2 linked regions of the Homo sapiens genome follow. The protein of the gene in region 2 purifies or fractionates together with the protein of the main gene of each other region. This does not show direct contact. Each region holds a gene or a part of one and is shown on either strand. Other genes may lie near its edges.

Region 1 (2,926 bases), on a different chromosome or scaffold from region 2:
TCCAAAGAGGAAGCTTATACAACTCCTGCTGGAATAAGCTTGGTCCTTGTGCCTTATGGTGGCCCTCCCTGTGGAGTAGGGTATATACCACCACCACTACCCACACTGTTGAACTCAGGAGCAGCCAGGCAATTTGTTTTGCCCATGAAATGTGGATGAAAGTAGCATGTATCACTTCCGATTGCCATGTCTGCCTGCCCTCTACCACAAAACATGATGTTCCTGGCAGAGACTGCTCTGCTCCGCTGGGTCACAGAGTGAAGAGGATAAGCACAGTCACAGCTCACCTGTGATGGATGTGTCACATAAGCAAGAAATAAGCCAGTGTGGTCTGGGGTCTTTTGTTACTGCAGCATAACTGAGTCTACCCAGACCAGTACTCAGGCTTTACAACACAGGCACTGCTCTTTCTCACCAGGAGGATTGCATTTCTAGCAGTGTTGCATGGAATTTAACAGCACATGTTTTATTTTTATTGTATGTATTTCTGTAGTGACGAGGTCTCACTTTGTTGCCCAGGCTGGTCTCATACTCCTGGAGGAGCACACTTTTTAGAGTCAACCTGCCTGGATTCAAATCTCACCAGTGGCTAACCTTGGTCAAGTTACTTTCTTGATGCCTCAGTTTCCTCATCAGTAATATAAGGATAACACTTGTACTGTGTTAGTCTATTCAGGCTGATATAATAAAATATCTTAGACTGAGTAATTTATAAACAACAGAAATTTATTGCTCACAGTTCTGGACGCTGGGAAATCCATGGTCGAGGTGCCAACAGATTTGGTGTTGAGTGAGGGCCCATTCCTCACAGATGATGCCTTCTATGTGTCCTCACATGGAGGAAGGGGTGAACAAGCTTCCCCAAGTCTCTTTTATAAGAGAGCCAATCCTATTCATGAGGTCTCCACCCTCATGACCTAATTAATCACCTCCTAAAGGCCCTACCTCTATACTGTCACACTGAGGATTATGTTTCAACAGGAGGATTTTGGGGGAACACAATGTTCAGATCATAGCAGACACCTACCCCACAGGGATATGTTCAGGATTTAATAACCTAAGCCTGTGCTTTGAGGAATTTGGCTAAATGGCTACTATTATTCTACATAGTCTCCCCTTGGCTGACATGGCAGTGATAGCAAGGGGTTGGGGTGGGAGAGGGGTTTGCTAAGATGGTTTCGTGTCTTATACATGCAAACAGCCAAACCCTCAGAAGTCACTCTCCCCCAGGGATGATACTGATGACCATCACTGTCCTTGCAACAGGCCAAGGGGAAAGGACTGGAGGGGCTTTGTTGTGAAGGGGTTGGGAGCAGGGCCTGTGGAGCCAGACTGGTTAGGGTTCAAGCCCTATCTCTGTCCCTTCCTTCCTGGGCATCTGTAGATAAGTTACTAACCTCAGTGAGCCTCAAATCCCATCTCATGGGGTGAGATGAGGATTCAGTGAAATAATTCATGGAAAAAATGCTTGTCACAGTCCTGGCACACTGCAAGGTCTCAGTAGACATCAGGATCAATGTCGGTGTTCTTCTTCTGCCAGAGTAAACCAAAGCGAGTGTGGGCAGAAAAGGAGTCATAGGAGGTGATTCATCTCTCAATGCATCTGAAGGAGCAGCAGGGATCATTGTAGTCTATCCTCTGTCCTCATGAAAACACCACCTCTTGAAATCACAGACTGATTATCTGGCTGGTGTCCAGTTGGTAGAAAGTAAAGCATCCCTCCCTGACATTGCACAACTGTCATGGATTCCCATGGCCAGCACAGACTGCCCAGTCTGCTTGTCATATTGGGGAAGTTATCTTATGTCCATAAAGGTGATGCCCACACTCAGCTGGGAGCAGCTGCTCAGAACGCTGTGGATGTGGGTTTAATGACCTTCAGTCAGGGTCATGCACCATGGGGGAAAGCTCAGATCAGGCAAAGATACACTGTGTCCCTTCACAGAGAGATCCACACTTGGCCTGGAGCTGCCCACAGAAGGAACCCCCTGGCTCACGTCCTTCTCAGCCACATGTCTTAGTGCACCCTCTGCTGAGGGCAGGATCCATTGCTGCCAAGCTGCTGGGCCAGGGCTTTCATGCAGTTGCCAGGTTATAAGCTCTACCTAAGGCCAGGTGTGCTCACCTCCCCGCTGGTTGGGTAGACCCCTGCCCAGGCCTGGCCGGAGGAGGGCTGGAGAATAATCGGTTGGAGGTTAACCTCACATGCCCAGCCCTTGAATTGCTGGCTGTTGGCTTTTTGGCCAGAAATCCAGATTAAGCTCTTAACATGCACACACACCTGGGAGGGGTGTCCGCCAGGCTCCACAGCTGTGTTTCAGCGAGTTCATTAGATGCTGTCATTCATGGCTGCCACAAGTGTTTCCCGAGTGCTTCCAGGTGCCAGGCACTCCTTCCTCCACGTCTGGGGAAGCAAGTACGTGACCAACACTTACAAGGGAAGTGGGGTGGGGGGTTGTGGTCTGGAAGCTTTGCTGACCACACTGCCCTGAGCTACATTTAGAGCTCAGCCTGGGGCCTGGAAAGCAGGCCCAGGGAACCTCATGGGGCCTTCATTCCTGATGAATGAAAAACAGCCAGAACTCCCAGCGTGCCCCTTGGCGGCTACTACACAAGAGCTTGCTGGATTTTCTATAAATATTTTTTTCCCAAATGTCACCATGAGTTAGCAGCGCTCACTCCTGGGGCTGCTGGGAATACATCTTTACTGCTTCCATCAGAACCAGCCTCCAGGTTGGAGAGAAAGCTTTTTGTTTGGTAAGCGACTGTGAAGGTTCATTACTGAGTGAAGGGAGAAGGCAACAAGGGTCTATTGGAGGAAATAGTATGGAAATTGGAATATCTTCAGTGAAATAATTGCAAGGCGACATTTCAGGGTAATTTCCTACCGCGTTTTAACGACGAATAAAGAAGATATAAAAGTGTC
Region 2 (4,536 bases):
TTTTTCAAGCAAAGAGTGGCCTCTTGGGAGACTACAAGCTTCTCTCATTTGTCATCTTCGGGCAGAAACCCCCTAGACTGGGTGTCCTGGAGCCAAAACTTTGAACTGGCAACTTTTTCCCTTCTCTGCCAGCCCATGTATATCTTGTCCATAACACTCTCCACTCCAGTTCATTTCTCATTCTCTCCTACCTGTAGAGTGTACTCCAAAGAGAACTTAAACACCATCATGCAGATTAAACACCTCTACCACGAAAAACATTTATGTGTTCCTTTGGAAGTTTCCAACTCCCAGCCCTACTTTACTGGAGTCGTAGAGACCGAATGGAGGACCCCTTTTCAGGTCTTTATTTTTTTCTTAAGCTTAAAGTCAAATGCAGAACCTCACACAGGACTGATGTTTTCCATCAGGCGCTTTCATTCATTCAAAGTGGAAATGCTTTGGGAGTCCTTTCTACTTGCCTGGTTGACACATGACTGACCCAAGTCTCTGCGTAAAAAGCTGTCCACACGCTTCTGATTGGTTTAGTGGAGAAAACGCTCTGACCAGGGTCTACCCAGGTAACAGGATTCTAGCCCGGGCCCTGCACTGAGTAGCCAGCCTTTCTCTAGGCCTTGCTGAACTGTCAAACCGGGGTGCGGCTGGGCTAGATCCCAGAGGGTGGCAGTCCGGTCCCAAGTCCCGGGACCCGAGTCGGGAGGGGCTTCTGTATGTGAGTTTAAACGCGCGGGGATTCACCTGTGAACCCTGGGGTCTGCACTCCTGTACGTCCGTGACTGATGCAGATGCTCCGGCTTTGGGAACGCTGCTGAGAGCGCCAGAGCCACAAGGTGCTTGTGCTGCTGCTGCACCGCCCACGGGGCTCTTGGGCCCATCTGCTTGGGCCAGCGCACCCCCCATCCGTATTGATTTCCGCTGCCCCCAAGGAGCTCCCGGGACTGTGTCCTGCCCCAGCTCGCTCCTGTGGCCTCCCAGTTCCTTTTTCTGTTTCTTTCTTTCCTCCTGGCTGCAATACTCCAGAGAAGGGAAGTGTTTGAAACTGCAACTGAGTGGCGTTGTTGCGCCGGCAGCCGAGCCTCCCAGTCCCCCAACGAGAAAGAGAGAGAGAGAGAGAGAGAGAGAAATTGAGAGAGAGAGAGAGAGAGAGAGAGAGAGAGAGAGAGAAGGGGGGGGAGGTGTGTGTCTGCGTACGAGAGAGCGCTCTGGAGCAAAGCAGCTGGAAAATGCCCAGAAATACTTTCACAGCGGTCAAGCTGGAACCCCCCGCGTGTCCTCCCCCTTCCCGCTCCTCCCGGCCTAGACCCCGCGCCCCCCGCAGGGAGGGTGTGCGCCCCACCTGCCACCGGGCTGCTCCGGGTGGTAGAAAGGGGTGACGGGGGACGGGGGCGGGGGCGGGTGGCGGCGCGGGGGTGAGAACCCGGAGGCGGCGGGGCCCTGGGCCGGGCTGCCCGCGGGACCGCGCGGCCGCCTCCCCCCGCCGCCGCCGCCGCCTCCCCCTCCTCCTCCTCCGCCGCCGCCGCCGGTCGCCTGTCTCCGCGCCGGGCATGCCTCGGGAGCCGGGGCGGCCCGGGCCGCGGGCGCTCTGCGGCGCATGGACGGCGGCGGCGCCGGGCGAGCAGCGGGAGGAGAAGGCGCAGGCGGCGGCGGAAGCGGCGACCCACGGCTGGGAGCACCGGCGGCGCGAGGGGACGGCCGGCCGCCCGCGAGGCTCCGGCCCCACTACTTTTCCGTAGCCTCCCCACCTCAGCAGCACGGCCGCCGCCGCCGCCGCCGCCGCCGCCACGGCCACGGCCACGGCCCCGGCCCCGGCCACCGCCCGCCGGGCAGCCCAGAGCGCCGCGCACGGCCGCACTCTCCCGCCACCCCACGCACACGCACACCCCCGCCCGCCCACGCCCCCCACCCGGGAGGGGGGAGAGAGGCAAAAAGTAAGAGAGGAAAAAAAATAGCAGGAAGATGGCGCCCACCAAGCCCAGCTTTCAGCAGGATCCTTCCAGGCGAGAACGGTAACACTTTTCTGTTTATTGAACCTGCCGCCGGGCCGCTGCTCCCGCCGCCGCCGCCTCCGCCGCCGAGGGCCCCTCTCCGCAGCCCGCCCGCCTCCTGGGCCGCGAGCCCGCGGGGACCTCGTCTGGGCGCAGCGCTCGCCCGGGGCCCCGCGCATTGTCCCCGCGGCGGCTGCGGCAGCGAGAGGCTCTGGCGGCGGCCGGGCTCTCTGAGCAGTCGCACCTCCTCGGCTCGGCGAATAGAGTGACTCACTGACAAAAAAAAAAAAAAAAAGAAGAAAGAAACAGAAAAGAGAAAAAGAAAAAGAAACAAACAGATGCGAAGGCGCTGCCGTGTGACGGGAGCAGCAGCGAGGGTGGGGGGCCGGGGATCCCCGGGGCCGCCGCAGGTCCCCTAGCAGCTGCTCTCGAGGAAGGGAATGAGGCTGGGGAGGGGGAGGGAAGGCGGCGAGCAGGGGGAGGAGGCGAGGAGCAGGAGGAGGAGGCCGGGGGCGGGGAGCGCGGAGCTCGCGCCAGGCCCGGAATGTGTCGCGGAGGGGCCGGCTCCGTCTCCGCGCGAGCAGCTAGGCCGGGCCGAGCCCAGAGGAGCGCGGCCGCCGCCTCCCTGCCTCCCGGGCTGCGCCCTCCGCTCGGCAACTTGTGGGTCTCCCGCTCTGCCCTCCGCTCTCATCTTCCCCTCCTCTCCATACCCCTCCCAAAGGAAAAAGAAAAATAAAGAAGAAAACCCTCAAATCCAAATAAGCAAACAAACAGCGAGATCCAAAATGTGTCAGCAGTTGGAGCATCTATGCCCCGTTAGTTACTGTTTGGGGATCTGTGTTTTAAAAAGTTCCTGGTGAGAATTGCATATCCAAGCAAGGGGCTCAGTCGAGCATGTCTATTTGAAGTTAGTTAAACTAGTACAGCCACAGGGAAAGGGAGTTTGTGTTCAAAATACCCGTAACTGTTCTACGTGAGTAGCATTGATAGATTTTCAGAGTAACTCAGCACCCCCTCCCCATCACCACCAACGTGGTTTTCCCTCCTGCTGTCCACCCAGCCTACTTTCTTTGGAATCCTATTTACTATTAATTGGCAACGTTAATGACATTAATTGCATATAGCATATTGGTTTGAGCAAAGTGGATATCTCTTTCTGTCTCCGAAGAGGAAAGGCGCAGTAGGAAGTATGAAACGTCACCCACTGATTCATGAGGAAAACAAATACAGTAAGATATATGCACCCCCACCCGCAGCAGGCGCGTTGATTTTCCTCACAGGCTTAAGTGAACTTGAAAAGAAGACAAAGGATGTGCTTAGTTGCAAGATTTAATTATTATAACATAGTTTTATTTTTGATGCAACATAATATTTAACCTATAGCTTACATCAGAAGACGATAAGGGGATATTCAGACATCCATTCATTTAAAAGGCTTCTATTGTACTGTTGCTTATTTCTTTCATACGATAGGGAAGGCACAATTGTCAGGATTAAGGAAATACTTTTGTTAAGTAGATACATAATTGACTAATTCTGAACTCTAGATGATTCTGTAAACATCATATATCAGAGAGTAAATCATACATAATCCAGTTTTTAAAGATGTTAAATGTGTATAGCATTAACTATTGCTCCCAAACTGTAGAAAATCTGACAACTCATACAGCTAAAATGAGTATTTACTTCTTAAGAAGTATCAGTGTTTCATGAAGAATTCACACTTTACTCTTGTAGTAGAAAAAATAATTTCTCAGAGCATTGTGCAAGGATTTTAAAAATTATTTTTTATCTAACATGAAGATGAATACTTTTTGAAATCTGAGGTTTATAATTGGTTTTCTTCCCCCTCCCCTCCCCTCCCCTTCCCTCCTCCCTCCCTCCCTTCCCCTCCTCCCTCCTTTCCCCTCCTCCCTCCTTCCCCTCCCCTCCTCCCTCCCTCCCTCCCTCCCTCCCTCCCTCCCTCCTTCCTTCCTTCCTTCCTTCCTTCCTTCCTTCCTTCCTTCTTCCCAGTTCTGTTGTTAATAAATATGTTTACTGGGATGGCCCCAGTAATCTCTCTAGCAAAGGCCTATTCGTGTGCCATTTTAGGAATTTCTCTGAGATAAGAATCTCGGAGATAGAATTAATTTCTAGGGGAAACTTCATAGCCTGTGCATGAGTGCGTTCTTTATCACCTGTCTCCATTTGGCATTCGAAGAAGGTAAATCAAAGTGTGCGATTTGTTATTCTGCTCCACTTGAGAGCTGAACTAAATAACACTTGGTCTGAAATTCTGATTGAAGTTGTAGGAGGATATACTGTATTTAATTTAATGCCCTTTAATAGCATCTTCTTGTTCAGCTTGGATGCTGTCATTTTAAAGGTTGGATCTGAGAAGGTTTAACCTGTATGGAGAAGGAGGAGTAATAACAGCGGGGTGGGGGCAGGAGCACTGTGGAAGATAGGAAGGAAGGAGTTATAAACTAAACCTTTCAAAAGGCAACAACCGCAAACTTGGTCCCTTATCCAAACAGTTGTTTTATGCCCCAAGGGTTCACTTTGTTGTCAG

What was found.
Region 1: the proteins of NPAS3 (region 2) and ABCC12 purify together in Homo sapiens (affinity purification with mass spectrometry; one large-scale study listed by BioGRID and IntAct). This does not show direct contact.

Annotation. Positions count from the first base shown.
Region 1 is NC_000016.10:48,080,177-48,083,102, forward strand, and holds the end of ABCC12 (ATP-binding cassette sub-family C member 12), read right to left. Parts: 3' UTR 706-2,926; downstream 1-705. UniProt on the Homo sapiens protein: Probable transporter, its substrate specificity is unknown.
Region 2 is NC_000014.9:32,937,361-32,941,896, forward strand, and holds the start of NPAS3 (neuronal PAS domain-containing protein 3), read left to right. Parts: upstream 1-1,518; 5' UTR 1,519-1,956; coding exon 1,957-2,006; intron 2,007-4,536.